5 linked regions of the Homo sapiens genome follow. The protein of the gene in region 1 purifies or fractionates together with the protein of each later gene. This does not show direct contact. Each region holds a gene or a part of one and is shown on either strand. Other genes may lie near its edges. The genes, in order: GNL3L, NUDT14, TERT, NMD3 and OLA1.

Region 1 (6,468 bases):
ACAGGGATGCCTGTGCTCACCATTCTTTTTTTTTTTTTTTGAGATGGAGTTTCGCTCTTGTTGCCCAGGCTAGAGTGCAATGGTGTGATCTCGGCTCACTGCAACCTCTGCCTCCTGGGTTCAAGAGATTCTCCTGCCTCAGCCTCCCAAGTAGCTGGGACTACAGGCATGCGCTGCCACACCCAGCTAATTTTGTATTTTTAGTAGAGACGGGGTTTCTCCATGTTGGTCAGACTGGTCTCAAACTCCCGACCTCAGGTGATCAGCCCACCTCAGCCTCCCAAAGCGCTGGGATTACAGGCGTGAGCCACCGCACCTGGCCACCACTCTTACTCAGTGTAGTACTGGAAGTCCCAGCGACTACAATAAGACAAAAAAAAAAATGCAGACATATATATTAGACATGAAGAAATAAAACCATGTTTATTCACAGAAGATATGATTGTCTATGTAGAAAGTCTGGTTAAATCTGCAAAAAAAGCTACTAGAACTAAGTGACTTTAGCAAAGTTTTAGCACATACTGCTAGAAAAATTGGGTAACCATATTTTTTTAAAAAGCATAGATTCATACCTTGTACCATATACAAAAATTGACTCAAAATGGATCATAGACCTAAATGTAAAACCTAAAACTATAAAACTTTTAGGAGGAAACATGGGAGAAAACCTTTGTCATCTCATGTTAAGCAAAGACTCCTCTGATGTAACACAAAAAGCATGATCCATAGAAAAACAAATTAATAAATTTAACAGCCATGGTGGCACATGCCTGTGGTCCCAGCTACTCAAGAGGCGGAGGTGGGAGGTTCGCTTGAGCCCAGGAGGTCGAAGCTACAGTGACCTATGAGCACACCACTGCACCCCAGCCTGGGTGACAGTGAGATCCTGTCTCAAAATAAGGGGAGAGATCTCCATACCCATATTCATAACAGCATTTTTCACAATAGCCAAAAGGTGGGAACAATGCACATGTCCATCAGTGGATGAATGGATAAATAAAATGTGGTATATACACACAATAGAATAATACTCAGCATTAAAAAGAAAAGAAATTCTGACGCAGGCTACAACACAGATTAAGCTTGAATACATTATGCAAAGTGAAATAAGCCAGTCACAAAAAGATAAATATTATATGACTATCAGGGTATTCAAATTCAGAGACAGAAAGTAGCATGGCAGTCGCCAGAGGTTGTGGGCAGAAGGGGTTGGGAGGTTATTGTTTAATAAGTACAGTTTTGGTTATGCATAATATAAATCATTCTGCCATAAAGACACATGCACACATATGTTCACTGCAGCACTATTCACAATACCAAAGACATGGAATCGACCTAAATGTCTATCAACGAAAGACTGGATAAAGAAAATGTGGTACATATGTGTGGGGATTATGGGAACTACAATTCGAGATTTAGGTGTGGACACAGCCAAACCATATCAGATGGTAACGTTTATGTTCTGTGTATTTTACCATAATTTTTAAAAATAAAAACAAATGTGTCAATAAAGCTTTCCCATAATGAAAAAAAGACACCGTTTACAGAATGAGAAGACAAGATACTGGCCAGGCACAATGGCTCATGCCTGTAATCCCAGAACTTTGGGAGGCTAAGACGGGTGTATCACTTGAGGTCCAGAGTTCAAGACCAGCCTTGCCAACATGGTGAAACCTTGTCTCTGGTAAAAATATAAAAGTTAGCCAAGCATGGTGGCCTGCGCCTGTAATTCCAGCTACTCAGGAGGCTGAGGCATGAGAATTACTTGAACCCAGGAGGCAGAGGTTGCAGTGAGCCGAGATTGCACCACTACACTCCAACCTGGGTGAGGACTCTGTTTCAAAAAAAAAAAAAAAAAAAAACACCCCTGTATCCAGCATATAATCCTCAAAATTCAAAAATAATAAAACAATCCAAAATATGCAAGAGATGTGAACACCTTGCCAAAGAAGATATGTAGATAGCAAATAAGCATATAAAATATGCTCAAATCATTAGAGGATGCAAATAAAAACGATGAGATACCACCACATACTTAATGTCAAAAAACCTGGCTGGGCATGGTGGCTCACACCTGTAATCCTAGCACTTTGGGAGACCGAGATGGGAGGATTACTTGAGGCCAGCAGTTCAAGACCATCCTGGTCAACACAGTGAGACCCCATCTCTATTTAAATGTATTAAAAAAATTAAAAAATTTAAAAATTAAAAAACTAAACTGACACCCCCAAGTACTAGAGAGGATGTGGAAATGAAACTTTCATACTGATGGGAATGTGAAATGGTAGAGCCACTTTGAAAAACAGTTTAGAAGTTTCTTAAAATGTCAAACATATGCTTACCATATATCCCAGCAATCCAACTCTAGGTATTTACTATAGATAAATGAAAACACAAAATGTTGCATACAAATGTTTATAGCAGCTTTACTTGTAATTGTCCAAAACTGCAAAGATCCTAAACATCCTTCAACTGGGGAACAAACAGTAGTAAATCCACACAATGGAGTGACTCAGAAATAAGAACTATTAATATACTGAGAAATATGGATGAATCTCAAATGTATTACTCATAGCAAAAGAAGTCGCTCTCAAAATGCTACATACCATATAATTTCATGTATATAACAGTCTTCAAAAGACGAAAATATATGGCCGGACACGGTGGTTCATGCCTATAATCCCAGCACTTTGGGAGGCCGAGGTGGGTGGATCTTTTGAGGTCAGAAGTTCAAGACCAGCCTGGCCAGTGTGGAGAAACCCCCGCCTCTACTAAAAATACAAAAATTAGCCCAGCATGGTGGTGGGCACCTGTAGTCCCTGTTACTCGGGAGGCTAAGGCAGGAGAATCGCTTGAACCCAGGAGGTGGAGGTTGCAGTGAGCCAAGATCACGCCACTGCACTCCAGCCTCAGTGAAAGAGTGAGACTCTGTTTCAAAAAAAAAAAAAAAAAAAAGACAAAAATATAAGAACAAAGAAAAAGGCCAGGCGCAGTGGCTCACTCTTGTAATCCCAGCACTTTGGGAGGCTGAGGCAGGAGGATCATGAGGTCAGGAGTTCGAGACCAGCCTGGCCAAAACAGTGAAACCCCATCTCTACTAAAAATACAAAAATTAGCTGGGCGTGGTGGCGGGCGCCCATAATCCCAGCTACTCGGGAGGCTGAGGCAGGAGAACCGCTTGAACCCTGGAGGCGGAGGTTGCAGTGAACCGAGATCACGCCACTGCACCACTCCAGCCTGGACAACAGAGCTAGACTCTGTCTCAAAAAAAAAAAAAAAAAAAAGAGAACGAAGAAAAAAACCAGTGACTGCCAGGGTTTGGGTGTAGGGGACTGGTTTTGACTACAAAGTAGCAGGAATAAATTTGGTAGGGAGAGGCTAAGAGGACTGTTCTGTACCTTGGTTGCATTGGTGGTTACACAACTCTACACATTTATCAGAGCTTTATAGAACTGTATACCAGAGTGAATTTTACTGTAATGTAAATGTTTATAATTTTTAAAACCTGAAGGCATAAAATAAGCCTACTCATTGTATGATTCTATTGATATGACAGTCATACTAAAGCAAAACTATAGGGGCAGAAAACAAATCAGTGGTTAGCAGAATCTGAGGGTCGGGGGTAGGAGTTGACTACAAAAGGGCCTGGAGAGTTTTAGGGGGGTGATGCAACTATATTTCGATTGTGGTAGTGGTTCACTCCTGTATATGTTTGTACAAACTCACATAACTAAAACTATAAAGAGTGAACTTTACTATATGTAAATTGTACCCTAATTGTTTTGAAAAATGAAGGTAAAAAGTTAAGAAAATACTTTTTTAAAAAAAACCTTTGAGATATGCTGTAGGTAGAGAAACTGCACTCCCAACGTCTTTTTTGTTTTCCTCTTTTTTTTTCCCCCTGAGACAGTCTCACTCTGTTGCCCACGCTGGAGAGCAGTGGCACAATCTCGGCTCAATGCAGCATCGACCTCCTGGGCTCAAGAGATCCTCCTGCCTCAGCCCCATAGGTAGCTGGGACTACAGGCATGAGACACCATGCCCAGCTAATCTTTGTATTTTTTTGGTAGAGATGAGGTTTCGCCATATTGTTTAGGCTGGTCTTGAACTCCTGACCTCAAGTGATCCGCCTGCCTCGGCCTCCCAAAATGCTGGGATTACAGGTGAGAGCTATCGTAACTGGCCTGCAGTCCCAAATTCTTACCGACATGACTACTTTAGTTCTGTTTGATTTTGGCCAAATTATGCTCCCATGCTGTTTCTTACTCATTTAGATACTTCCATTTCTAATATTTACCTCCCAGCACTTCTCCATTACCGATGGGGTCACCTCCTGATAAACCCGTAATTTGCACATTACAATGGGTTTACCAGGAAGTAGCCCCATCATAAGTAGAGGTGCATTCTGAATGTATACTGCTTTTCCACCAAAAATCCCACATCAAACCACCAAAAGTCGGGGACTGTCTGTATTTTAAATGCTAAATTATGAAACGCTGTATGGTTGCAAAATAGACTTAGCTGTCCTGGTATGCAATTTTTCATTATAACACTATCACATACCAGGAGAGTTCAATGAGATAGTGTGAAATAAGTTGTAGCCTATTCAAGAGCACATAGTTTTAGCAAGACACTAAAAACTAGTAGTTTAAGAAACTAGAGTTTTTTAAACCAAAAAAGAAAAAATTTAACGTTAAATGCATTTAACGGACTTGATAACAGAGACTGGCACAAAGTAGGGGCTTAATCAATCTTCCTTTGTTAAGGAGGCAGTACAATATAGAGGAAAGGGCCTGCATAGGGTTTTAATCACGCTTGGGTTCCAATCCTAGCACCACCACTTAATACGCCCACTTGGGTCTGGCCATCCTGTCAACTTTTTTTTTTTTTTTCCGAGACGAAGTCTCACTCTGTCCCCCAGGCTGGAGTGCAGTGGTGTGATGTCGACTCACTGCAACCTCCGCCTCCTGAGATCAAGTGATTCTCCTGCCTCAGCCTCCTGCATAACTGGGATTACAGGTGTGAGCCACCATGCTCGGCCAACATTCTGAGATTACTTTTTTTTTTCATTTGGGGAGACGAATCCCTTACTAGCAGAGCTGTATTGAGGGTTAACGGTGGTAATGGGTCTCCAGGGCTTGGTGCAGTTTGTACTCAACAAGTACGTAATTCTCTCCTTTGGTTGCCCCTGAATACAAGAGTGGTCTTGTACTTCCCTGCCTGAACAGTCCACAGCCAATGGCACTCCAGTCCTTGTCACATGGTTCCACTCTTAGGATGTAAATTAGGAGGTACCAGCTTGAGAGGCAGAGGCAAAGGTAAGGTTAAGATGCAGCTGTGAGGCTGGGCACAGTGGCTCACGCCTATAATCCCAGCACTTTGGGAGGCCGAAGCGAGTGGATCACTTGAGGTCAAGAGTTCGAGACCAGCCTGGTCAACATGGTGAAACATCGTCTCTACTAAAAATACAAAAACTAGCCAGGCGTGGTGGCAGGTGCCTGTAATCCCAGCTACTTGGGAGGCTAAGGCAGGAGGATCACTTGAACCCGGGAGGCAGAGGTTGCAGTGAGCCGAGATCACGCCATTGCACTCCAGCCTGGGCAACAGAGCAAAATAAATAAATAAAGGTGCAGCTGTGGGTCGAAGGATGGTGTGGAAGTTTGGGGTAGACATCCAAGACTGCAGTAATGCTATGCCCAGGGTATATTTTGGGGCAAAACCCCCAAAATACCCTGGCAAAGAAAGAAGATTGTGTTTCAGTTGCAATCATCTACCCTAATCCCTTTCTGAGGGCCTCTGGCACTGCTTGGGCTCACTGCCCTTGTCTGATGGGGTAGGATCTCCCAGAGGAGACAGCTAATTATACTTTAATGAGGTGACTTACAGACACTGGAAAAGGAGTTGGCTGGTACACTCCCATATATAGCAGCTCTCTCGAGGATACAGTCTGTGAATAAATGGTACCAGAACCCTCTTGAGCCATGGAATTCAAATGCTGGTGCAATAGGAGACATGGTCACACAAGGGCAGGGTCCAGCCAGAGTACTTCAGTTAAAGAGATTCCTCCAATTCACAATCTGCCCAGAAATGCCCCCAAGACGGGGCTTCCCCCTAAAGCCTCCCTACTAACAGGTGCTTTGTTTTCTCTTCACGCAAACAGGGTAGTGCCTACCACACTTCAGCACAAGCCAGGCTTGTTTGTTCTCTTCTTCCCTCTACCCTATCCCTAGAACCTTCCAGAGACACAGGAGGCTCATTACTTTCTACTTTTTCTCACTGCCACCCAGGTGAAGACCTATGGACTTGGAAGATGCATGGCCCAAAGCCCACTGCAGGCATGCCTTGCCACTGAAATCTCCTGTGGGGTGGTAAAGAAACCATCACCCTCCCGCAGGGACCCCCAGGTCTACCAGCAACCTAACTTCTAGTGGCATATTCACCTGTCTAAGAGAGTTTTGTAGGCAGAGT
Region 2 (6,120 bases), on another chromosome or scaffold:
TCCTAGGCGGGCATGGCCCGATCACGAAGCCCTCCAGAGGGTGTTTCAACGCCAGAAAGGGAGAAATTCAGGCCAGTCCTGCTGGCCCTGAAGGGGAAGCAACCGCCATGCTGGGAAGGGCCAACAGCCAGCAGGGAGGTGGGACCCAGTCCCCAGCCACCAGGAGCTGAATTCTGCCATAACCTCGTGAGCCGGGAAGACCCCAAGCCCCCATGAGATTGCAGATCCGGCTGACAACCTGCCTGCAACCTGTCAAGGCCAAGCAGAAGACCCCACCCCTGTCTGCAGCCCCCAACCAGATACCCTGAGGCTGTTCCCAGTGCTGTTTGGAGCCCCTCAGTCTGTGGCCAGCTGCAGAGGCCCATGCCAGACCCCAGCCCATACCCGGGGACACAGGCTGGCTGGGAAGCAGGGACAAACCCACCAGGCCTTCCCGCAAGGGTTCCCCACCAGGCACCCACAGGACACAAGTTTCAGACTAGGAACAGCATGCACTGACCGCCCCCCCACCCCCCGTAGCATGGCAGAGTGGGGTGGGGTGGCAGCGAGGTCCTCAGTACCAGGCCCAGTGGCCCAGGCTGGGGAGGGGTAAGAGGAAGCCCCCTCCCTCAGTGGGCAGTGGCCAGAAGGGGGCTGCTGGCAGCCAGGAGGGGTCAGGCACCAAGGGAAGGAGCCTGGACTGGCGTGTGTGGAGGGAGACCACGGGCTAGGAGGACAGGATGGCAGAGGGGCTGGGCTGCATTCTGGAACAGGAGGGGGAGGGCCAGGTGTGGATCTGGGGAGAAACGGGACTGAGGGGCATCTGGGAAGATGACCAGGGGGTGGGGGAGCCCTGGCTCGCCGCAGGAGGGGCTGTCGGGTGCCATGAACCAAGGCCAGCCGGAGGCCTGCAGGGTAGAGGCCGCCCTCTGAGATGTACCCAACATACAGGGGCAGGGACAGAACTGGGGGCTTCCATGCCCCACCCCCAAGGCCTCCCCACCTCCGGGGGGACTCACCCCAGACCGACCTTACCCAGCTGCTTCCTTGCCCTCTAGCCCCTCACCTCCCGCAGACCCCTTCCTGATGGCCCATTTCCGGCGGCGGCCGCGGCTGCGCCTCTGAGGGAAGTGGCGGGTCTGGGGTTTCCAGCCCCGGTTTCCGCCGGCTTGTGAAGGAGACAGGCCCGGCCCTTGGCCCGGGCTGAGAGGAATCTGCCAGCCAGGCTGGGCAACGCCTCCCCCACCCCAGGGCACGTTCCAACTTCACTCCATCACGCCCCAAGCTGACTGCCTCCCTGGGCCTTGTCCTTTGCAGCGGCAGGTAAGAGGCCTGGCTCACCTCCAGAATCAGAGACAGGGAGCCACGGGCCCTGCCACAGGGTGGGTGAACTTTGCTGTCAGTCCAGCCCCCCATCAGGCCCTCAGAGACGGACACCCTGACCCCTAGTCAGCAGCATCTCCAGTCCTGCATCCCTGAAGCCACGGCCTGCTCTTCCCGATGCGAGTCTAAGCAGGATGCCTACTTCCCAGAGCCCTCCTTGGCTCCCCAGCACCCTCACAATCAGGCTGTGGCCCAGAGGCTGTACCAGTAGAACCACCGCGGCCAGGGCTGCTTGACCACTTGCCCTGAGAGCCTGTGCGGTCCCTCTGCCAGGAACCTGCCCAGGCCCACCTCCTCCAGGGGGACCAAGGGGACTCCAGCCCCTCCCATGCCTCCCGGCTGTGCTCAGTACTATGGGCTGGGGAGCTGGGGGCACAGTGGGCGTGGCCCACCACGGGGTAGACACCTGCAGAAAACCAAGGCCCATCCTTCACACCCAAGTCCACCCTTCGGCATGGAAATTCTGTTTTGTTGAGACAGAGTTTCGCTCTTGTTGCCCAGGCTAGAGTGCAATGGCGCGATCTCGGCTCACCGCAACCTCCGCCTCCTGGGTTCAGGCTCACCGCAACCTCCGCCTCCTGGGTTCAAGCGATTCTCCTGCCTCAGTCTCCTGAGTAGCTGGAATTACAGGCTCCTGCCACCACGCCTGGCTAATTTTGTACTTTTAGCAGAGGCGGGGTTTCTCCATGTGGTCAGGCTGGTCTCGAACTCCTGACCTCAGGTGATCCGCCTGCCTCGGCCTCCCAAAGTGCTGGGATTACAGGCGTGAGCCACCGTGCCTGGCCCAGCGTGGAAATGCTGCCTTTAACTTGGGAGTCCACCCATCCAGCCAGGAACGTGCCCAGGTGAAGTCCTTGAGGCTGCTGAGGTGGGAGGGCCCCAGGCTCAACCCTGAGTGGCCCATGTGCCAGGCTGACAGGTGCAGAGACTTCCGGTGCTTCTCCCAGTGGAGCGGGCCCTGGCCTCTGGAGGAGGCTGTGGAGGCTGGTGCTCAGCTGGTGGGGGTGGGGGTCTGTGACACCCTCCTCCTTCCCCAAGACCTCAGCTGGGGTCAGGAGCCCATCGTAGCGTCCCTGGGGAAGTGGATGGGCTTCATACCAACATCTAGTCCTGGGAAGGCAACCCCACCCCAGCTGGCAGCCCTCGCGGGGCAAGAGTTGGTGCCTCGAGTTTGGTGGGTCAGGTCCCAAAGCGCAGGCTCTAGTGCCTGTTCCCCAGGAGAGCTGGAGCCACCCCTTCTCCAGCCCAGGACACAGCTTCTCCCTCATTCCTAAGCCACCCTCTGAGAACAGAGCTGTGAGTCACCCCCACCCCCAGCGCCCGGTCTTAATCCTACAGGAAGTAGAGGCACCTGTCAGCAGCAGCTGTCACCCGGCCTGCCTCACACAGCTGGGGGCCGCAGGCTGGGGGCATGGGGCCGAGACGCTGCAGAGAGAGCCCCAAGAGCCCAGATTCTGGCCTGGCTTAGGAGCTGAGGCGCATTCGGTCCAACCCTCCCCTAATCCCATGTTGGAAAACAAGGAGGAATCCATCCTGCTTGCACACTCCCAGGGACGGGGCCCTCACTCTCTCCCATCTCCTGAGTCACACCACAGGCCTGAGGGCCTGGTCCCACTCACCAGTATGTGGCGACCCGGCGCAGATCAGAGGGGGCCAAGTGGTAGCCACACTCCTCCCAAGCCTCCTTGCAAGCCACTTCCTCCAGCGAGAGCCCAGGCTGGTCCACGAGGCCGGCACACAGCTCAACTGTCACCCCCGCTGAGCCGGGCAGGGCTGGCTGTAGCTCCCGAGGCCCGTCCTGGTCTACAGCTGCTAGGGACCCTGGGAAGCGGCGCTCCACCTCACCCGCATACACAGCTGCGTGGGAAGAAGCCAGACTGTGCTCACAGCCACGTGGTGGCCACCTCCAGGTCACCCACACAGCCAAGCCCCCTCCCAGGGCCTCAGCTTCCCCTGGAGCCCCCTCCCACATCTGTATTCAGACCCTCAGGACCACAGGGACCTGAAGGTGACCCTGCAGATCCCCTTCCCACCCCAGCTGGCCTCACCTGGCCGGAACTGCTTCACCAACACCAGGCTCCTCCGAGAAGAGTTGAATAAGAGAACGGTCACGCTGTGTACGGGGGGAGGGGCTCAGCACAGAAGCACTCCACTGGCCCTCGTGGGGCCCCACCTCCCATCTTTCTGTTCCCAGCGTGGCCATCCCACCTCCTTGCCAGCAGCCCAGGGAGGTCAGGCCCCTTGCTCAGATAGGATGGCTGAGGCCCAGGCGGGACCAGAGCTTTCCAGGGTCACAGTCTGGCCAGGACCCAGACCTGCTGTATTCCAGCTGGCAGGATGGGAGGCGGGGGGCAGGGAAGGACACACGGGCAGCTGAGTAGGTCAGGGTGCTCGCAGCTGAGGCCGGGTGACTGACAGGACGTTTGGCCCTCACTGAGCAGCTGCCCACCAGCCACACTCCTCGAGCCACGTCGCCATCCAGCCCAGACCCTGGATGCTAGGGGCAAAGGCTCCAGGACAGCCTCTCCCTGCCCTGAGAGGGCCTGCCCACCATCATGGTCCCGGTGGCCTGAGCAAAGACCTGACTCAGCCCCCAGGCCTCAGGCTGACCCCTCAGGGATAGGAAACCCAGAGGCCGGGCAGAGAGAAGGGACTTTTGGAGCCCACGCAGGGAACAGCAACGTCAGGGAGGAGAGGGCACCTTCGCCCTGGGCCCAGTGTCCCCGTAGACATCAGTCTGGGGCTTCCCCAGTGGCCAGGCTGGGCCAGGCTCTCACCTGTCATGCGTCTTCATGAAGTCCCAGGACTTCTGGGCACCATTCTAGAAGGGGCAGGTCAGCGGTTAGAATGTCCCAGGATGGGCGGAGGTGCTCGGGGAACCGAGGAGGCCACAGACCCATTGCACCCACTCCTAACCAGGGAGATCGGCTCGTGGCCTGGGCCCACGGGAGCCAGGAACTGCAGCTCCCGTGGGCAGAGGAGCAAGCAGCCTGGGAGGGGCAGGGAGGTCAAGGACAGCCTAATACCCTACGAGTGAGGCAGAAGACCAGGGCAAAGGGCAGGGAAGGTGTCCAGGCACCTCATGAAACACTGCCCAGCACAGACCGAGCACAAGGGGCTGCAGAGAGACGTACACCGTCACCAAGTATAGGAAGGCTCATGGAGGCTCGGGGAGGGCAGGCGTGACTCCCTCACAGCAGGGCAGGAGGGCCCTGCAGGCAGAGGAGAGGTCAGGTTTTCCTGCTGATGCTTCCTTGGGCCACTGAACAGGTGGAGACGGGAGGGCAGGAGGGGCCGGCACCAGGAGTGGATGGGGAAGGGTGGCAGGAGGGGCTGGCACCAGGAGCAGATGAGGAAGGGTGGCGCCCCAGCCAGGTAGGAGATCGCACTGCAGGACTCGGTGACTGTCATGATGGTGACCAGGCTCGGCAGCCCCCCCACACACCCCTACCCCCAGTTTCTGGCCTCGACTCTCCCACATACCCTGTGGTCCCGTTCTCCTGTGGCCACCCTCCACCTTCCCACTCCCCCACACTGGGCACACCACCCTGGCAGGCCCCTGCACCCTGGGTGGCACTCAGTGAACGGAGGAGGCAGGGTGGGCAGGTGTGTGGGCTGGGCCTGCTGGGGGAGGCTGGAACTGATGCATTCTGAGATGCACTCCCATCCTGGGGGCTGAGCCTGGGGTCCCGCGGGGTCCCATCTCCGGCACGCTCAGCCCATCTGCCACTCTGAGGCCCAGGCCAGCTGCTCATCCCCCACCGGGGGCTCTGCCCAGGGCTGTGAAATGGACAAGAGGTCTGAGCAGCAGAGACACAGAAGTGCAGCCAGGACTGCAGAAGAGAGAAGAAGCCTTCCTGAGGACTTTCTGGAGGAGGTGACGGAAGTGAGGGAAGGGACTCTGGGCAGGCAGAGGCGCAGAGGCCCTCTGAGCTTGGCCGGGAGGCAAAGGCGTCCTGGGAGGAGAGTACCGGTTTCCAAGGGAAGGGAGGGCCGGCGTCCCGCGCAGGTCAGGCAGCCCGAGAGGCCGTGGGGTACCACTCCCGGGAGGCGACCCCAGGCCTGCCTGACACCCAGCCACCCCCGAACCACCACCCAGCCAGGGCAGGCTCCAGGGAAGCCCCCTGCCCACAGCCTGCCATGTGCCTGCTGTGCCCATGCCCCTTCCCCACCACTGCTTCCCCCCGAGTAACATCACCCCATGCAGGTCTCAAGGACCCTCTCAGCTCAAGGTCAAAAGCGTGTCAGACCCTTAGGTCCAGCCAGGTCAAGGTGCAGGGAGGTTTAGGGAGGCTGCTGAGGCCTGGGAGGGAGGGGCAGGGCTGGGTGCAAAGAAGACCCCATCGCCTCGGAGCCACGGGGGTCCCCTGCCTTTGGTCTGCCTGACATCACAGGCCTCCCCTGGCTGGACGCAGCAAAAAGCTGAGGGCTGCAGCTGCCCCTGGGTGGCAGCCAGCGTCCAGCCCAATGTCCCTTGGCCCTGAGGAGATGCCGCCCAGCCCGAGCCTACATCCGTGTCCACCACAGCCACAGCCCGAACCAGCTCAGCTCTGGTCACCAGAACCCTTCAGCAGAGCTGTGCCGGCGGGCTGCCCGCTGAGGCTGCAAGGGCTGCCCTGAGGCTTCACGGGGAGTGAGGGAGAGAGTGCTGCCACCAGGGCCACAGAGGGCACCTGCCTGGGCCTGCACCTGCTGCCTGAGACCCAGCCCTGTGGGGACTGTGCAGCCACAAGCAGGCATCCCATATGGCCAACGTCA
Region 3 (6,683 bases), on another chromosome or scaffold:
GATTCAAGCTGGATTTGCATCAGTGAGGGACGGGAGCGCTGGTCTGGGAGATGCCAGCCTGGCTGAGCCCAGGCCATGGTATTAGCTTCTCCGTGTCCCGCCCAGGCTGACTGTGGAGGGCTTTAGTCAGAAGATCAGGGCTTCCCCAGCTCCCCTGCACACTCGAGTCCCTGGGGGGCCTTGTGACACCCCATGCCCCAAATCAGGATGTCTGCAGAGGGAGCTGGCAGCAGACCTCGTCAGAGGTAACACAGCCTCTGGGCTGGGGACCCCGACGTGGTGCTGGGGCCATTTCCTTGCATCTGGGGGAGGGTCAGGGCTTTCCCTGTGGGAACAAGTTAATACACAATGCACCTTACTTAGACTTTACACGTATTTAATGGTGTGCGACCCAACATGGTCATTTGACCAGTATTTTGGAAAGAATTTAATTGGGGTGACCGGAAGGAGCAGACAGACGTGGTGGTCCCCAAGATGCTCCTTGTCACTACTGGGACTGTTGTTCTGCCTGGGGGGCCTTGGAGGCCCCTCCTCCCTGGACAGGGTACCGTGCCTTTTCTACTCTGCTGGGCCTGCGGCCTGCGGTCAGGGCACCAGCTCCGGAGCACCCGCGGCCCCAGTGTCCACGGAGTGCCAGGCTGTCAGCCACAGATGCCCAGGTCCAGGTGTGGCCGCTCCAGCCCCCGTGCCCCCATGGGTGGTTTTGGGGGAAAAGGCCAAAGGGCAGAGGTGTCAGGAGACTGGTGGGCTCATGAGAGCTGATTCTGCTCCTTGGCTGAGCTGCCCTGAGCAGCCTCTCCCGCCCTCTCCATCTGAAGGGATGTGGCTCTTTCTACCTGGGGGTCCTGCCTGGGGCCAGCCTTGGGCTACCCCAGTGGCTGTACCAGAGGGACAGGCATCCTGTGTGGAGGGGCATGGGTTCACGTGGCCCCAGATGCAGCCTGGGACCAGGCTCCCTGGTGCTGATGGTGGGACAGTCACCCTGGGGGTTGACCGCCGGACTGGGCGTCCCCAGGGTTGACTATAGGACCAGGTGTCCAGGTGCCCTGCAAGTAGAGGGGCTCTCAGAGGCGTCTGGCTGGCATGGGTGGACGTGGCCCCGGGCATGGCCTTCAGCGTGTGCTGCCGTGGGTGCCCTGAGCCCTCACTGAGTCGGTGGGGGCTTGTGGCTTCCCGTGAGCTTCCCCCTAGTCTGTTGTCTGGCTGAGCAAGCCTCCTGAGGGGCTCTCTATTGCAGACAGCACTTGAAGAGGGTGCAGCTGCGGGAGCTGTCGGAAGCAGAGGTCAGGCAGCATCGGGAAGCCAGGCCCGCCCTGCTGACGTCCAGACTCCGCTTCATCCCCAAGCCTGACGGGCTGCGGCCGATTGTGAACATGGACTACGTCGTGGGAGCCAGAACGTTCCGCAGAGAAAAGAGGGTGGCTGTGCTTTGGTTTAACTTCCTTTTTAAACAGAAGTGCGTTTGAGCCCCACATTTGGTATCAGCTTAGATGAAGGGCCCGGAGGAGGGGCCACGGGACACAGCCAGGGCCATGGCACGGCGCCAACCCATTTGTGCGCACAGTGAGGTGGCCGAGGTGCCGGTGCCTCCAGAAAAGCAGCGTGGGGGTGTAGGGGGAGCTCCTGGGGCAGGGACAGGCTCTGAGGACCACAAGAAGCAGCCGGGCCAGGGCCTGGATGCAGCACGGCCCGAGGTCCTGGATCCGTGTCCTGCTGTGGTGCGCAGCCTCCGTGCGCTTCCGCTTACGGGGCCCGGGGACCAGGCCACGACTGCCAGGAGCCCACCGGGCTCTGAGGATCCTGGACCTTGCCCCACGGCTCCTGCACCCCACCCCTGTGGCTGCGGTGGCTGCGGTGACCCCGTCATCTGAGGAGAGTGTGGGGTGAGGTGGACAGAGGTGTGGCATGAGGATCCCGTGTGCAACACACATGCGGCCAGGAACCCGTTTCAAACAGGGTCTGAGGAAGCTGGGAGGGGTTCTAGGTCCCGGGTCTGGGTGGCTGGGGACACTGGGGAGGGGCTGCTTCTCCCCTGGGTCCCTATGGTGGGGTGGGCACTTGGCCGGATCCACTTTCCTGACTGTCTCCCATGCTGTCCCCGCCAGGCCGAGCGTCTCACCTCGAGGGTGAAGGCACTGTTCAGCGTGCTCAACTACGAGCGGGCGCGGCGCCCCGGCCTCCTGGGCGCCTCTGTGCTGGGCCTGGACGATATCCACAGGGCCTGGCGCACCTTCGTGCTGCGTGTGCGGGCCCAGGACCCGCCGCCTGAGCTGTACTTTGTCAAGGTGGGTGCCGGGGACCCCCGTGAGCAGCCCTGCTGGACCTTGGGAGTGGCTGCCTGATTGGCACCTCATGTTGGGTGGAGGAGGTACTCCTGGGTGGGCCGCAGGGAGTGCAGGTGACCCTGTCACTGTTGAGGACACACCTGGCACCTAGGGTGGAGGCCTTCAGCCTTTCCTGCAGCACATGGGGCCGACTGTGCACCCTGACTGCCCGGGCTCCTATTCCCAAGGAGGGTCCCACTGGATTCCAGTTTCCGTCAGAGAAGGAACCGCAACGGCTCAGCCACCAGGCCCCGGTGCCTTGCACCCCAGTCCTGAGCCAGGGGTCTCCTGTCCTGAGGCTCAGAGAGGGGACACAGCCCGCCCTGCCCTTGGGGTCTGGAGTGGTGGGGGTCAGAGAGAGAGTGGGGGACACCGCCAGGCCAGGCCCTGAGGGCAGAGGTGATGTCTGAGTTTCTGCGTGGCCACTGTCAGTCTCCTCGCCTCCACTCACACAGGTGGATGTGACGGGCGCGTACGACACCATCCCCCAGGACAGGCTCACGGAGGTCATCGCCAGCATCATCAAACCCCAGAACACGTACTGCGTGCGTCGGTATGCCGTGGTCCAGAAGGCCGCCCATGGGCACGTCCGCAAGGCCTTCAAGAGCCACGTAAGGTTCACGTGTGATAGTCGTGTCCAGGATGTGTGTCTCTGGGATATGAATGTGTCTAGAATGCAGTCGTGTCTGTGATGCGTTTCTGTGGTGGAGGTACTTCCATGATTTACACATCTGTGATATGCGTGTGTGGCACGTGTGTGTCGTGGTGCATGTATCTGTGGCGTGCATATTTGTGGTGTGTGTGTGTGTGGCACGTGTGTGTCCATGGTGTGTGTGCCTGTGGTGTGCATGTGTGTGTGTCTGTGACACGTGCATGTTCATGCTGTGTGCTGCATGTCTGTGATGTGCCTATTTGTGGTGTGTGTGTGTGCATGTGTCCGTGACATATGCGTGTCTATGGCATGGGTGTGTGTGGCCCCTTGGCCTTACTCCTTCCTCCTCCAGGCATGGTCCGCACCATTGTCCTCACGCTCTCGGGTGCTGGTTTGGGGAGCTCCACATTCAGGGTCCTCACTTCTAGCATGGGTGCCCCTGTCCTGTCACAGGGCTGGGCCTTGGAGACTGTAAGCCAGGTTTGAGAGGAGAGTAGGGATGCTGGTGGTACCTTCCTGGACCCCTGGCACCCCCAGGACCCCAGTCTGGCCTATGCCGGCTCCATGAGATATAGGAAGGCTGATTCAGGCCTCGCTCCCCGGGACACACTCCTCCCAGAGCGGCCGGGGGCCTTGGGGCTCGGCAGGGGTGAAAGGGGCCCTGGGCTTGGGTTCCCACCCAGTGGTCATGAGCACGCTGGAGGGGTAAGCCCTCAAAGTCGTGCCAGGCCGGGGTGCAGAGGTGAAGAAGTATCCCTGGAGCTTCGGTCTGGGGAGAGGCACATGTGGAAACCCACAAGGACCTCTTTCTCTGACTTCTTGAGCTATCGCAGCTACTTGCAAATCTCAGCAGAATTTTACCCTCATGGAAAGCTGATGGCCACCACCTGTGCCCAGGTGTAGAAAGTCACTAGAGCCCAGGAGACCCCCCCGTCCCCACCGCCCACCTGTGCCCGGGTGTAGAAAGTCACCAGAGCCCAGGAGACCCCCCCCCACATCCCCGCTGCAGCGGAAGCTACCGCCCCCACCGTGACCCTCGTTCCGACCTCGACCTCCATGGTCTCCCTCTCCCGGTCTCCATGTGAGTGAGATCAGGCAGGAGGTGGGTTTTGGGGTTCGAGCCTCAGCTATGCTGAACGCCTCAGCTGTGCGTTCTGTCCATGAATGGCATCCGTTGTGGAACTCGCCACGTGGATGTATCCTTCCCGCTGCTGTGGAGGCTCCTGGGTGCGGACTGCACGGCTGCGCCTGCTGTGAGCCTGCTGGGTTCTGGGAGTGTCCCAGGGGTCAGAGGCCCTCGCCTCTGGGTGAATTCCAGGGGTGGGGTTGCTGGGTCACAGACGTGCTTTAGGGATGTTGTGGGAGTTTCCAGGGGGGTGACAGTGACACCCCGGCTGGCTGCTTGTGAGGGCGATGCCTCCGGTGGCCGCTGGCCTGAAGGTGTCGAAGCCGCCTCGTGGGATTGTGCAGGGGGCTCTCTTGATGCCCACGTGCCCACAGTGTTCCCGTGCTGGCCGCCCCGGGGCTCTTGCGGGAGGTGGCTGTCCGTCCTGCCCCGCTCTGTATGGGGCGCCTGCCTGCCATCATCGGCTTGCAGGAGCTCTTTGTGTGTTCTGCTGCAAGTGTGGCATCACATGCGTGCACTGTGAATCTCTGTGCCGTGTGTGTCTTGCTTTTGTGCTCTCAAGTCAAGCCTTTTGAGGACTGGAAGATTGTACTTCTATCGCAGTCCACTAACACAGTCCAGTAACGCAGTCCACTTTATCAGCTGTTTGTGGCTAAAGCTGTTTGTGTTCTCTGCAGGAACTCAAGGTATTGAGGTTGTGGTGACGTTGCTTCTGCGCCTCCTTTTAGAACAGTCTTTACTGTGTCAGCTTGCAAACCTGGGTGGGGATTGGTGGAATTGGTTTTCATGTGTGGGGTAGGTGGGGATCTGTGGGATTGGTTTTCATGTGTGGTGTAGGTGGAGATCTGTGAATTGGTTTTCATCCGTGGGGTAGGTGGGGATCTGTGGGATTGGTTTTTATGTGTGGGGTAGGTGGGATTGGTTTTCATGTGCGGGGTAGGTGGGGATCTGTGGGATTGGTTTTCTTGTGTGGGGTAGGTGGGGATCTGTGGGATTGGTTTTTATGTGTGGGGTAGGTGGGGATATGTGAATTGGTTTTCATCCGTGGGGTAGGTGGGGATCTGTGGGATTGGTTTTTATGCGTGGGGTAGGTGGGGATCTGTGAATTGGTTTTCATCCGTGGGGTAGGTGGGGATCTGTGGGATTGGTTTTCATGTGTGGGATAGGTGGGGATCTGTGGAGTTGGTTTTCATGTGTGGTGTAGGTGGAGATCTGTGAATTGGTTTTCATCCGTGGGGTAGGTGGGGATCTGTGGGATTGGTTTCTATGTGTGGGGTAGGTGGGGACCTGTGGGATTGGTTTTTATGTGTGGGGTAGGTGGGGATCTGTGAATTGGTTTTCATCCGTGGGGTAGGTGGGGATCTGTGGGATTGGTTTTCATGTGTGGGGTAGGTGGGGATCTGTGGGATTGGTTTTCATGTGTGGGGTAGGTGGGGATCTGTGGGATTGGTTTTCATGTGTGGGGTAGGTGGGGATCTGTGGAGTTGGTTTTTATGTGTGGGGGTAGGTGGGGATCTGTGGAGTTGGTTTTCATGTGTAGGGTAGGTGGAGATCTGTGGGATTGGTTTTCATGTGTGGGGTAGGTGGGGATCTGTGGGATTGGTTTTCATGTGTGGGGTAGGTGGGGATCTGTGGGATTGGTTTTCATGTGTGGGGTAGGTGGGGATCTGTGGAGTTGGTTTTCATGTGTGGGGTAGGTGGAGATCTGTGGGATTGGTTTTCATGTGTGGGATAGGTGGGGATCTGTGGGATTGGTTTTTATGAGTGGGGTAACACAGAGTTCAAGGCGAGCTTTCTTCCTGTAGTGGGTCTGCAGGTGCTCCAACAGCTTTATTGAGGAGACCATATCTTCCTTTGAACTATGGTCGGGTTTATAGTAAGTCAGGGGTGTGGAGGCCTCCCCTGGGCTCCCTGTTCTGTTTCTTCCACTCTGGGGTCGTGTGGTGCCTGCTGTGGTGTGTGGCCGGTGGGCAGGGCTTCCAGGCCTCCTTGTGTTCATTGGCCTGGATGTGGCCCTGGCTACGCTCCGTCCTTGGAATTCCCCTGCGAGTTGGAGGCTTGCTTTCTTTCTTTTTTTCTTTCTTTTTTTTTTTTTTTGATAACAGAGTCTCGCTCTTTTTTGCCCAGGCTGGAGTGGTTTGGCGTGATCTTGGCTCACTGCAACCTGTGCTTCCTGAGTTCAAGCAATTCTCTTGCCTCAGCCTCCCAAGTAGCTGGAATTATAGGCGCCCACCACCATGCTGACTAATTTTTGTAATTTTAGTAGAGACGAGGTTTCTCCATGTTGGCCAGGCTGGTCTCGAACTCCTGACCTCAGGTGATCCTCCCACCTCGGCCTCCCAAAGTGCTGGGATGACAGGTGTGAACCGCCGCGCCCGGCCGAGACTCGCTTCCTGCAGCTTCCGTGAGATCTGCAGCGATAGCTGCCTGCAGCCTTGGTGCTGACAACCTCCGTTTTCCTTCTCCAGGTCTCGCTAGGGGTCTTTCCATTTCATGACTCTCTTCACAGAAGAGTTTCACGTGTGCTGATTTCCCGGCTGTTTCCTGCGTAATTGGTGTCTGCTGTTTATCGATGGCCTCC
Region 4 (3,500 bases), on another chromosome or scaffold:
CAAAATTTAAAATAACTGCTAGACACCAAATTTTGGCAATGGACTTAAGTAAATAGTCACAAAAATTAAATGAGGTAAATAAGTCAATTTCAGGCTGGACATGGTGGCTCACGCTTGTAATCCCAGCACCTTGGGAGGCCGAGGCGGGCAGATCACGAGGTCAGGAGTTCAAGACCAGCCTGGCCAACACAGTGAAACCCCGTCTCTACTAAAAATACAAAAATTAGCTGGGCATGGTGGCAGGCACCTGTAATCCCAGCTACTTGGGAAGCTGCAGCAGGAGAATAGCTTGAACCTGGGAGGCGGAGGTTGCAGTGAGCTGAGATTGCGCCACTGCACACCAGCCTGGGCAATAGAGCCAGACTCCATCTCAAAAAAAAAAAAAAAAAAGTCAATTTCAGTAAAAATTAATGGAATAAACCAGTAAATATGTAAAAATTAACAGAATTGTTTCTTTAAATAAAAAATACAAAAGTAACTAATCAAAGCTTGCAAATTCCACAATGTTTTGTATTAAACAATAGCACAAATTTTAACTAACCTTTCAAAACAATATTAGCAAGAATGCTTGAAAAATTAACAACACAAATTATTATTGTTTGTCATACAAAACAAAATTGTCAAGGCAAATCATTTCCAGAATTTACCTTGTAGGGTGTTTGGATCAATGAGGTGAATGGCACTGGTTACTCGAATACACACACAAATCTGGTTCATATTTCCCAGGCTTTGTGCCAGTTTTGGAGACAGACAGACAACATTATCCTAGGCATAAGAACTAACATTTAGAATGAGGCATATCCTAAATAACAGTCCAATAAACACTCATCAATAAACACCCAATCCAATTGCATTTGACCAACCAAAACGTTATTTTCAATTCTATCAATCAACAAAGAGACTAAAGAAAAGAATCAGACCTTAAGTATGACAGGCATCTTGTCTTAATAAAAATGCTTTAAAAAAAAAAAAATCCTGGCTGAGCACGCTGGCTCACTCCTGTAATTCCAGCAATCTGGGAGGACAAGGTGGGAGAATCCCTTGAGCCCAGGAGTTCAAGTCTAACCTGGACAACATATGGAGACCCTGTCTCCATATACATATATATATATATTTTAATTAGCCAAACGTGGTGGTGCATGCCTGTGGGCCTAGCTACTTGGGAGGCTGAGGTGGAATGACAGCCTGGGCCCAGGAGGTCGAGGCTTCAGTGAGTTAAGGTGGTGCCACTGCACTCTAGCCTAGGTGACAGAGCAAAACTGTCTCTCAAAAAAAAAAAAAAAATCCAGGGCCCAAATCACCAAGCTATTATTATTTCCATTTTATTGCAGTGTGAATGCCTCTTATCACTCTATATGTTAATACAGTGTACATTCTAAACAGAGTATTATAAACATTAGCAGGAGAGTGATTCTATAAATCCACCTGTGACTTCTTTCAATCTCCATTAAAAAATAAACTTCAAAGGAACACATTTCTCTTACATGGCTACATGTGCCAATATACAATCAAAGATTTAAGCCCAAAAAAGTCACATGTCTACATTTATATTGGGAGACATGAAGCAGCAACGTAATTATCTGTTTTTAAACTGAATTAAAATACAAAAAAGATCTGAGTTATATTTTAAGGTGTATCTATTCACAATCATAACAGCTCTTAGTTCAGTCCTTGGTTTTTAATACATGAGTTTCCAAAGATAAACAAATATACTTTTTTACATAGTTTAATACATATGTTAATTTTTACATGTGTAAAACTCAGTTACACAAGGCCTAAATATGCCCTCACACCTAAATTCATATTTCTCAAGATTTGTACCAGGGAAACATTTACTGTTTTAAACCAGAGGTTGGCAAAATGCCACCCTCAGGACAAATCTGACCCACCATCTGTTTTTGTAAATAAAGTTTTACCAGAACACGGCCCTGACATTCCTTTACATATTACCCATGCTACTTTTGTACAACAGCAAAGCTGAGTAGCTGCAAAAGAGATTATACGACCTGAAAGTTAAAAAATTTACCATCTGTCTCTTTACAGAGAAAGTTTGCTGACCCTATTTTAAGCTATCATTTCATCCCTAGTACATACTATAAAATAGCAATAGCAGTTTTAAAGCTTTGGAGACACAGACCTGGGTGCAAATCCTAGCTTCATCATTTTGTGATCATGTAACTTTGGGCAAGTTATCTAACCTCCTCAAACTTCAATTTCCTCATCGTCAAAATGATATGGCTTACCTCAGTTATTATGAGATGAGAATGAGGTGAAAGACACTAAAGTATCTAGATTAACTTTATGTAGAATGGTCACAATAATGGCAGTTATCATTCTTAGTGATTTAATACTGACATATAAATTCTTACATGGCAGAGACCTGTAGTTATACAATCCTCAGTACACAGCCTTCTATACTATAGATACTCAATAACTATTTATTGAATTTTAATTCATATTTTTCTGAAGCAGAGTTTTATCTTAGTACAATTAAATGAAATAATCTACATTTTAAATGTTTTATTCAGCTTATGTTTTAAAATCATAAAAATGATTCTATGATCTCATTTTCACATTATCACAATATTCTTTCATTTCTTGCCAAAATTTTGTTTGTACATATTCCACAAAGTGGCTCACTAATATTGATTTTAATGTCATTTCTTTTATTCAATTTCACTGAACTATATGATACAGGCTCATAGGATCACAAATTTCAAAGAATACGGACTTTTATCAACTATAACCAGGTCTTTTCATTTTAATACACCAAAATAAAAGGCATGTCAATTCATAATTATAAGCATGACTTTTTTAAAAATATATATCTTTTAACATGGCTGAATGTGTTAGAAGTCACTTAAGGAACTTATTCTAAATTTTTAACCAACCCTAGAGGAAAACCAGGAGCTACAAATTACATATAAGCCAATTAATTACTTGTACTCTTTTACAGATATGGATTAAATGAAAAAGAAAAGTACCTTGCATATTGGAACAATTTCCACAGAAAAAGTGCTTTTGTAATTGTATGTGTTACTATGGATATCTTGAGAGATCAGTCTTTGTGATGCTTTGTATCTATTAAGAAAAAAGTTAGTAGTAATATAAAGACAAAGATCATTAACCTGTATGGACTCAGGAATATCAATTTTCATTAAATCAAACCATCATTGTCCAAGGTCTAAAATGGCTTCATGATGCCTCCTCTGGTAAAACCTACTGTCCTGCACTTGCATGTCAAAACCTTCACCATTCTAACTAAGCCCTACCTATTTTGAACCTTTTCCACCAAACCTCTAGAACATGCTGTTGGCTCAGACCAATCTACTTTCTATATAGCATTATTAAAAGCCATACTAACGCCCACTGCAAATCTTTGTTCACACTAATAGTACCTTTCAATATAAACTCCAGCTATGAAAATTTCCCGATCTTTGGAGCACAAGTCCTACCACCTCTGTGAGTGGGTGGTTAACCCAATATATGCTTCCTGATTG
Region 5 (6,683 bases), on another chromosome or scaffold:
CACTGTATAGCTGTACAAAAATATTTTTTCTTTATATCCTTATTCCATATGCTTTTTTATATCTTTAAAATGTGTGCTTTTTTTAAAAACTTTTTTGTTAAACACCGAGACATAAACACATACATTAACCCAGGCCTACATGGAGTCTGATCATGAATATCACTGTCTTCCACCTACACATTTTGTCCCACAGGAAGGTTTTCAGGGGCAATAACACACATGGAGCTGTCATCTCCTATGATAACAATGCTTCCTTCTGGAATACCTCCTGAAGGAACTGCCAACGGCTGTTTTACAGTTACTTTTTTTTTTTATAAGTAGAAAGAGTACACTCTAAAGTAACCATAAAAATTACAGTATAGGCTGGGCATGGAGGCTAATGCCTGTAATCCCAGCACAAAGAGACTGAGGCAAAGAGATCGCTTGAAGCCAGGAGTTCAAGACCAGCCTAGGCAACACAGGAAGTCCCCATCTCTACAAAAATATATCTTTTTAATTACTCAGGTGGGGTGGCGTGTGCCTGTAGTCACAGCTATACTCAGGTGGCTGAGGCAGGAGGATTGCTTGAGCCCAGGAGCTCTAGGCTGCAGTAAGCTATGATCAGGCAACTACACTCCAGCCTGGGCAATGGAGCAAGACTCTGTCTCAAAAAACAAACAAACAAAAATTAACTATAGTAAATACATAAGCCAGTAACTGTCATTTATTATCAAGTATTACGTACTGTACATAATTGTATATGCTATACTTTTATATGACTGGCAGCACAGGCTTGTTTACACTAGCATCACCACAAACGTGAGTAATGCCTTGCACTATGAAATTACCACAACTACAGTATCACCAGGTGATAGAAAATTTTCACCTCCATTATAATCTCATGGGACCTCCGTCATATATGCAGTCAGTCATTGACCAACATCATTATGCAGCACTTGTCTGTAATAGGCATCCCAGAAAGGGAATAAAGTAGAAGATTATCTTCAAAGCACTAGAAGAATAACTGTTAACCTAGAATTCTACCCAGTGAAAATATCTTTCAAAATGAAGAAGTGATAAGCACATGAAAAGATGTCAATATTCTTAGCCATCAAGAAAACACCAATTGGCCAGCCACGGTGGCTCATACCTGTAATCCCAGCACTTTGGGAGGCGGAGGCAGGCGGATCACCTGAGGTCAGGAGTTTGAGACCAGCCTGGGTCAACATGGTGAAATCCTGGCTCTATTAAAAATACAAAAATTACCTGGTGGTGGCGCATGCCTATAATCCCTGTTACTTAGGAGGCTGAGGCAGGAGAATCACTTGAACCCAGGAGGTGGAGGCTGCAGTGAGCCAAGACTGTGCCACAGAACTCCAGCCTGGGCAACAGAGTGAGACTCTATGTCCAAAAAAAAAAAAAAAAAAAGAGAAAAAACACCAATCAAAAACTTCACAACTTGGCTATAATCAAAAAGATAACAACAAATGTTGACAAGGATGTGAAATATTGGAACCCACATACACCACCTGTGCGCACATAAAATGGTGCAGCCACTTTGGAAAACAGTTTGGCAGTCCTCAATAGTTAAATATACAGTCACATGTGACCCAGAAATTCTACTTCTAAATATATACCTAAGAGAAATAAAATCATATATCTAAATAAAAATTTATGTATCCTAAGGCTGAAGCAGACAGAGTACAAATAACATATTGTACTGAAATATAAAATATGTTGTATATAACTGAAAGATACTGTGGTGTCAGAAAGTAGAAAGCACTCAAAAAATAAAGAGGACATGTCAAAAGGAATATAAGTGAACATAAAGGCTCCTAATCACCAAATATGGGCAATTAGAGTGACAAAATAACAACAGTAATGGATTATAACCAAAAGAATAAATTAAGAATCTATACTGATATAAATAAATTATAATCAAATACATGAATAAATGGGAAACTCTTTTGTACAATAGGATTTTACACAATAGAAGTTCCATTGTTCCTTCTACAAATTGTTTCTTCTAAATGTAGAAGAAATAAGGGATATTTTTTAATCACCATTTGGCAAACACCACAATAATAACTGTTTCAGTAAGAATCAATAACACATGCCAAAATTAGGGGGCAAAAGTATGAGAAACAATATATGTACAAAATTTCAAAGGACCCCCTACAAGATGCTTATTAATTGCAATGGGAAAAATAACCCTTTCAGTGAAGAAATCTGTCAGATACCAACGAGCAATCAAAGTTAATATCACCAAAAATGGACAAATCAACATCATGTGCTTTCTAATACACTGTATTGAAAAGCATATGTCACTTATGTGCTCAAAAGTACATAACTTGAAATTAATTATGAGGAAACATCAGACAAACCCCAAATGAGAGCTGTACATAATAACTGGCCAGTACTCTTCAAAAGTGTCAAGGATATCAAACACAAAAAGAGACTGAGAATGTGTTCCAGGTTAAAGGAAACTAAGGAAACAAAACACTTAAATGCAGCTGGGCACAGTGGCTCATGCATATAATCCCAGCACTTGGAAGGACGAGGTGGGAGGATCACTTGAGGCCAGGAGTTTGAGACCAGCCTGGGCAACATAGTGAGAACCCATCTCTACAAAAAAAAAAAAAAAAAAAAAAGTTAAAAATTAGCCTGACATAATAAAATGTGCCTGCAGTCCCAGCTATTCAGGTGGCTGAGGTGGAAGCATCACTTGAGCCCAGGAATTTGAGGCTGCAGTGAGCTATGATCAGGCCAAGGTACTCCAGCCTGGATGACAGAGCGAGACTCTATCTCAAAAAAAAAACAAAAAACAATTAAATGCAACATACAATTATGGATTGAATCTTGGACCAAAAAAAGGACATTAGAGGGACAATTAGTAAATCAATGTTTATTTCCTGATTTTGATCATTGTATTATAGTTATAAAGATTTTAACACTTAGGGGATCCAAGCAGAGGTTAAATAGGAATTTTTAAAACTATTTTTGCAACTGTGAGTTTTTTTAAGCATGAAATTATTTCAAAAGAAATTTTTTTTCCATATGGGTCTTACTATATTGTCCAGGCTAGAGTGTAGTGGCTATTCAGAGATCTCACTACCCATCAGGACAGGAGTTTTGATCTGCTCTGTTTTTGACCTGGACCAGTTCACCCTCCTTAGACAACCTAGTGATCCTCCACTCCTGATAGGTCACCATATTGATGCTGAACTTAGTGCTGACACTGGATCACCACTGTGGGTGGCGTTGCAGACACCCAATCAGCATAGCACAACACAGCCCAGAACTCCTGGGCTCAAGGTATCCTCCTACCTCAACCTCCTGAGTAGCTGAGACTACATGTGGGCACCACTGAGACCAGCTCAAATTTTTTTTTAATTTAATCTTAAGTGAAAAGTCAAGCAAACTGGCAAGAGATCATTGTAATACATATCCAACAAAGAACTCATATCCAGAATAAAAAACTAATCATTAAGAAAAAAAAAGACTTTTTACATAAGATATCCAATAACATATGGAAAGATGCTCAAAATCACAAGCCATCAAGAGATATCTCTGATATCCATAGATACCTGTCTTCTCGGTAGACATGGGAATCTGACTCTTAGCTTAATTTTATCAGCTCTTTAGAATGAAAATACTCAGATCATCAGTATTTGCAGCCTAGAGAATAATTTTCCTCCTGTGAGTTCCTTTGAGCAATCAAGAATGGAGCTTCTAAAACACAAGTGAGCTAAGAATCAACTAGGCAGACTTCTAGGAACACATAGACATCACATATTTTGTATCAGGAAAATAGTGGACTGCAGTGGATTGAAGATGGCCACACATTTTTTGTCACTCCTCCCATCAAGAGGTAGAGTCTATTTCCCCTCTCCCCATGTCTCTGGGCTGGTGTCATGACTTGCCTTGACCAAAAGATTTCTGTGTAAGTTTGCTATGCCACTGCCACACCTCCATTCTCTCGAGAGCCAGACGCCAAGATATAAGGAAGCTTGGTCTAGAGACCACTTAGAAAGAGAATGAGGCCAAGTATAAGAGAAGTGCCCCAGACTTCCAGTCAATCCAGCTAAGGCCCCAGATCTGTTAAAATGGCCATCTTGGATCTTTCAGTCTCAACTAGCCACCAGCTGAATGCAGTCACATGAGGGATCCCAATGAGACTGGCAGAAGACCTTTCTAACTCACTACATTCCCGACGAACAAAAATTGTTACTATTTTAAACCATGAACTTTTGGAATGGTTTGCTACACATCAACAGATAACTATACAATGGTGATAATTCTCTTGTGATTTTTTCTTTTTTTTAGCATTTTCTACAACCTTTTCCCTCAGCAATGGTAAATGGCTTTCACAGACGCTGTGATTGGTCTGCAGAAATTTGGGAGAAGGCAATTTGCAGGGACACCAAAATGCATTCCCAGAAGGATCAGCTAAACAAGACAATTACTCTCCTGGGGCAGTTTGTGAGTGTTTGAACACAGTATACTAGTTGCCCATAATATCCATTTTCCCCTTCTTTCAGAGTAATCGTTTTTTGTTTTTTCTTTTTAAGACAGAGTCGCACTCTGTGGCCCAGGTTGGAGTGCAGTGGCACAATCTTGGTTCACTGCAACCTCTGCCTCCCAGGTTCAAGCCATTCTCCTGCCTCGGCCTCCCGAGTAGCTGGGATTAGAGGCGTGCGCCACCACACCCAGGTAATTTTTGTATTTTTAGTAGACATGGGGTTTCACCATGTTGGCCAGCCTGTTCTCAAACTCCTGACCTCAAGTGATCCGCTTGCCTCAGCCTCCCAAAGTGCTGGGATTACAGGCGTGAGCCTCTGCACCCAGCCAAGAGTAACAGAATTTTTAACCAAACATGTGGCTGTCAAAATAAAGACTACATTTCCTTGCCTTCCTTGCAACTAAATTCTTGTGACTAAATTCTGGACAAAGGGATGTTGGCAGAAGTATGGTATGGCAGTTTACAGGAAAAAGGCTGCTAGTCAAGTTTGGCCCCCTGACCCTTCGGATAACCAGCTGCCTGGAATTCACAACACCTTAGACCAGCAGCCGCCAACCTTTTTGGCACCAGGGACTGGACCGTGAATTGGCTGATGGAAGCCAATTTTTCCACGGACCAAGGGTGTGGGGGATGGTTTCAGGATGAAACTGCCCCATTTTAGATCATCAGGCATTAGTTCGATTCTCATAAGGAGCGTGCAACCTAGATCTCTTGCATGCGCAGTTCACAACAGGGCCTGCGCTCCTCTGAGAATCGAATGCTGCTGCTGACCTGACCGGAGGTGGAGCTAAGGTGGGAATGCTCACTCGCCTGCTGCTCGCCTCCTGCCATGCAGCCTGGTTCTTCACACGCCACAGATCGGTACCAGTCCCCAGCATGAGGTTCGGGAACCCTAGCTCTAGACCATGAGGATGAGGCCACATCCTAGGGATTGCCAAGCTGTGAAGTGAAAGGAGCATGGGTTCCTGAGGACTTCATAAAGCAGGTCCACTATACCAAGCTATGACTGCAAAATGTACATTTTTACATGAAGAAAAAAAACTGGTTATCTGGGGTTTTCTGATGCTCTTAATTGAACCTAATCCCATCTGATGCAGTGGATAGCAACAAGAAGAGCTATCCCTCACAGAAATAAAGAAGTTTGGAACACTGTATCAAAACGTACTTTCGCCCCCAATATTCTCTAAGCCTCACAACCACAATAATACACTGCTCCAACAGGAGCTCATTTATAAAGGGTCACTCAGGTAAGAAAAAGCAGTACAGAACTAGAAACCAAATCTCCATATTCTTTCTACTTCATTAAAAGAGGTCATTTAATTGCCCAGCACGGTGGCTCACACCTGTAATTCCAGCAGGCGTGAGCCACCACACGGGGCAAGGAGACAGGCTTTTTTGTGTTTTTGTTGTTTTTTTTTTCAGATGGAGTCTCGCTCTGTCACCCAGGCTAGAGTGCAGTGGCGCGATCTCAGCTCACTGATACCTCCGCCTCCCAGGTTGAAGCAATTCTCCTGCCTCAGCCTCCTGAGTAGCTGGGATTACAGGGGCGTGCCACCACACCTGGCTAATTTTTGTATTTTTAGTAGAGATGGGGTTTCACCACGCTGGTCAGGCTGTGAAACCAGCCTCAGGGCAGCATGGTGAAACTCCATCTACAAACAATACAAAAATTAACCAGGCACGGTGTTTTGTGTGCCTGCAGTTCCAGCTATTCAGGAGGCTGAGGAGTAGGGACTGCTTGAGCCCGGGAGATTTAGGCTGCAGTGAGCCATGATCATGCCACCGCACTCCAGCCTGGGCAAGAGAATAAAATCTTGTTCAAAAAACAAAAACATGTCTCCTTATCACTAAATCTACATCCAGCCGTCAAAGGGGAAATATGTATCCCATTAACAAATAATTACTAAATATCTACTATGTTCCTAACACCATCGTGTCCCGTTAACAAATAATTACTAAATATCTACTATGTTTCTAACACCAGTCTAGGCACTAGAAATATACCAATAAGCAAGAACGAGACAATCGGTACCTTCCTACCTTCACAGAATTTAAATTGCAATGGAGGGGAATGTCAAACCACTTATTAAATTAGATAATATATATAAAGTACTCAAAATAGCGATTGGCATATAGTAAATGTTCAATATCTGATTAGCTATAAATATTACCTCTAAGTTTC

Evidence for each region.
Region 2: the proteins of GNL3L (region 1) and NUDT14 purify together in Homo sapiens (affinity purification with mass spectrometry; one large-scale study listed by BioGRID and IntAct). This does not show direct contact.
Region 3: the proteins of GNL3L (region 1) and TERT purify together in Homo sapiens (affinity purification with western blotting, with the first as the bait; one study listed by BioGRID). This does not show direct contact.
Region 4: the proteins of GNL3L (region 1) and NMD3 fractionate together in Homo sapiens (co-fractionation; one large-scale study listed by BioGRID). This does not show direct contact.
Region 5: the proteins of GNL3L (region 1) and OLA1 fractionate together in Homo sapiens (co-fractionation; one large-scale study listed by BioGRID). This does not show direct contact.

Annotation. Positions count from the first base shown.
Region 1 is NC_000023.11:54,561,219-54,567,686, reverse strand, and holds the end of GNL3L (guanine nucleotide-binding protein-like 3-like protein), read right to left. Parts: 3' UTR 398-6,468; downstream 1-397.
Region 2 is NC_000014.9:105,173,553-105,179,672, forward strand, and holds part of NUDT14 (uridine diphosphate glucose pyrophosphatase NUDT14), read right to left. Parts: intron 4,184-6,120; coding exon 4,140-4,183; intron 3,476-4,139; coding exon 3,411-3,475; intron 3,220-3,410; coding exon 2,982-3,219; intron 2,436-2,981; coding exon of another isoform or gene 2,414-2,435; exon of another isoform or gene 1,936-2,413; intron 1-1,935. UniProt on the Homo sapiens protein: Hydrolyzes UDP-glucose to glucose 1-phosphate and UMP and ADP-ribose to ribose 5-phosphate and AMP. The physiological substrate is probably UDP-glucose. Poor activity on other substrates such as ADP-glucose, CDP-glucose, GDP-glucose and GDP-mannose.
Region 3 is NC_000005.10:1,274,893-1,281,575, reverse strand, and holds part of TERT (telomerase reverse transcriptase), read left to right. Parts: intron 1-1,237; coding exon 1,238-1,418; intron 1,419-2,105; coding exon 2,106-2,285; intron 2,286-2,779; coding exon 2,780-2,935; intron 2,936-6,683. UniProt on the Homo sapiens protein: Telomerase is a ribonucleoprotein enzyme essential for the replication of chromosome termini in most eukaryotes. Active in progenitor and cancer cells. Inactive, or very low activity, in normal somatic cells.
Region 4 is NC_000003.12:161,238,311-161,241,810, reverse strand, and holds part of NMD3 (60S ribosomal export protein NMD3), read right to left. Parts: intron 3,082-3,500; coding exon 2,985-3,081; intron 766-2,984; coding exon 648-765; intron 1-647. UniProt on the Homo sapiens protein: Acts as an adapter for the XPO1/CRM1-mediated export of the 60S ribosomal subunit.
Region 5 is NC_000002.12:174,237,107-174,243,789, forward strand, and holds part of OLA1 (obg-like ATPase 1), read right to left. Parts: intron 1-6,683. UniProt on the Homo sapiens protein: Hydrolyzes ATP, and can also hydrolyze GTP with lower efficiency. Has lower affinity for GTP.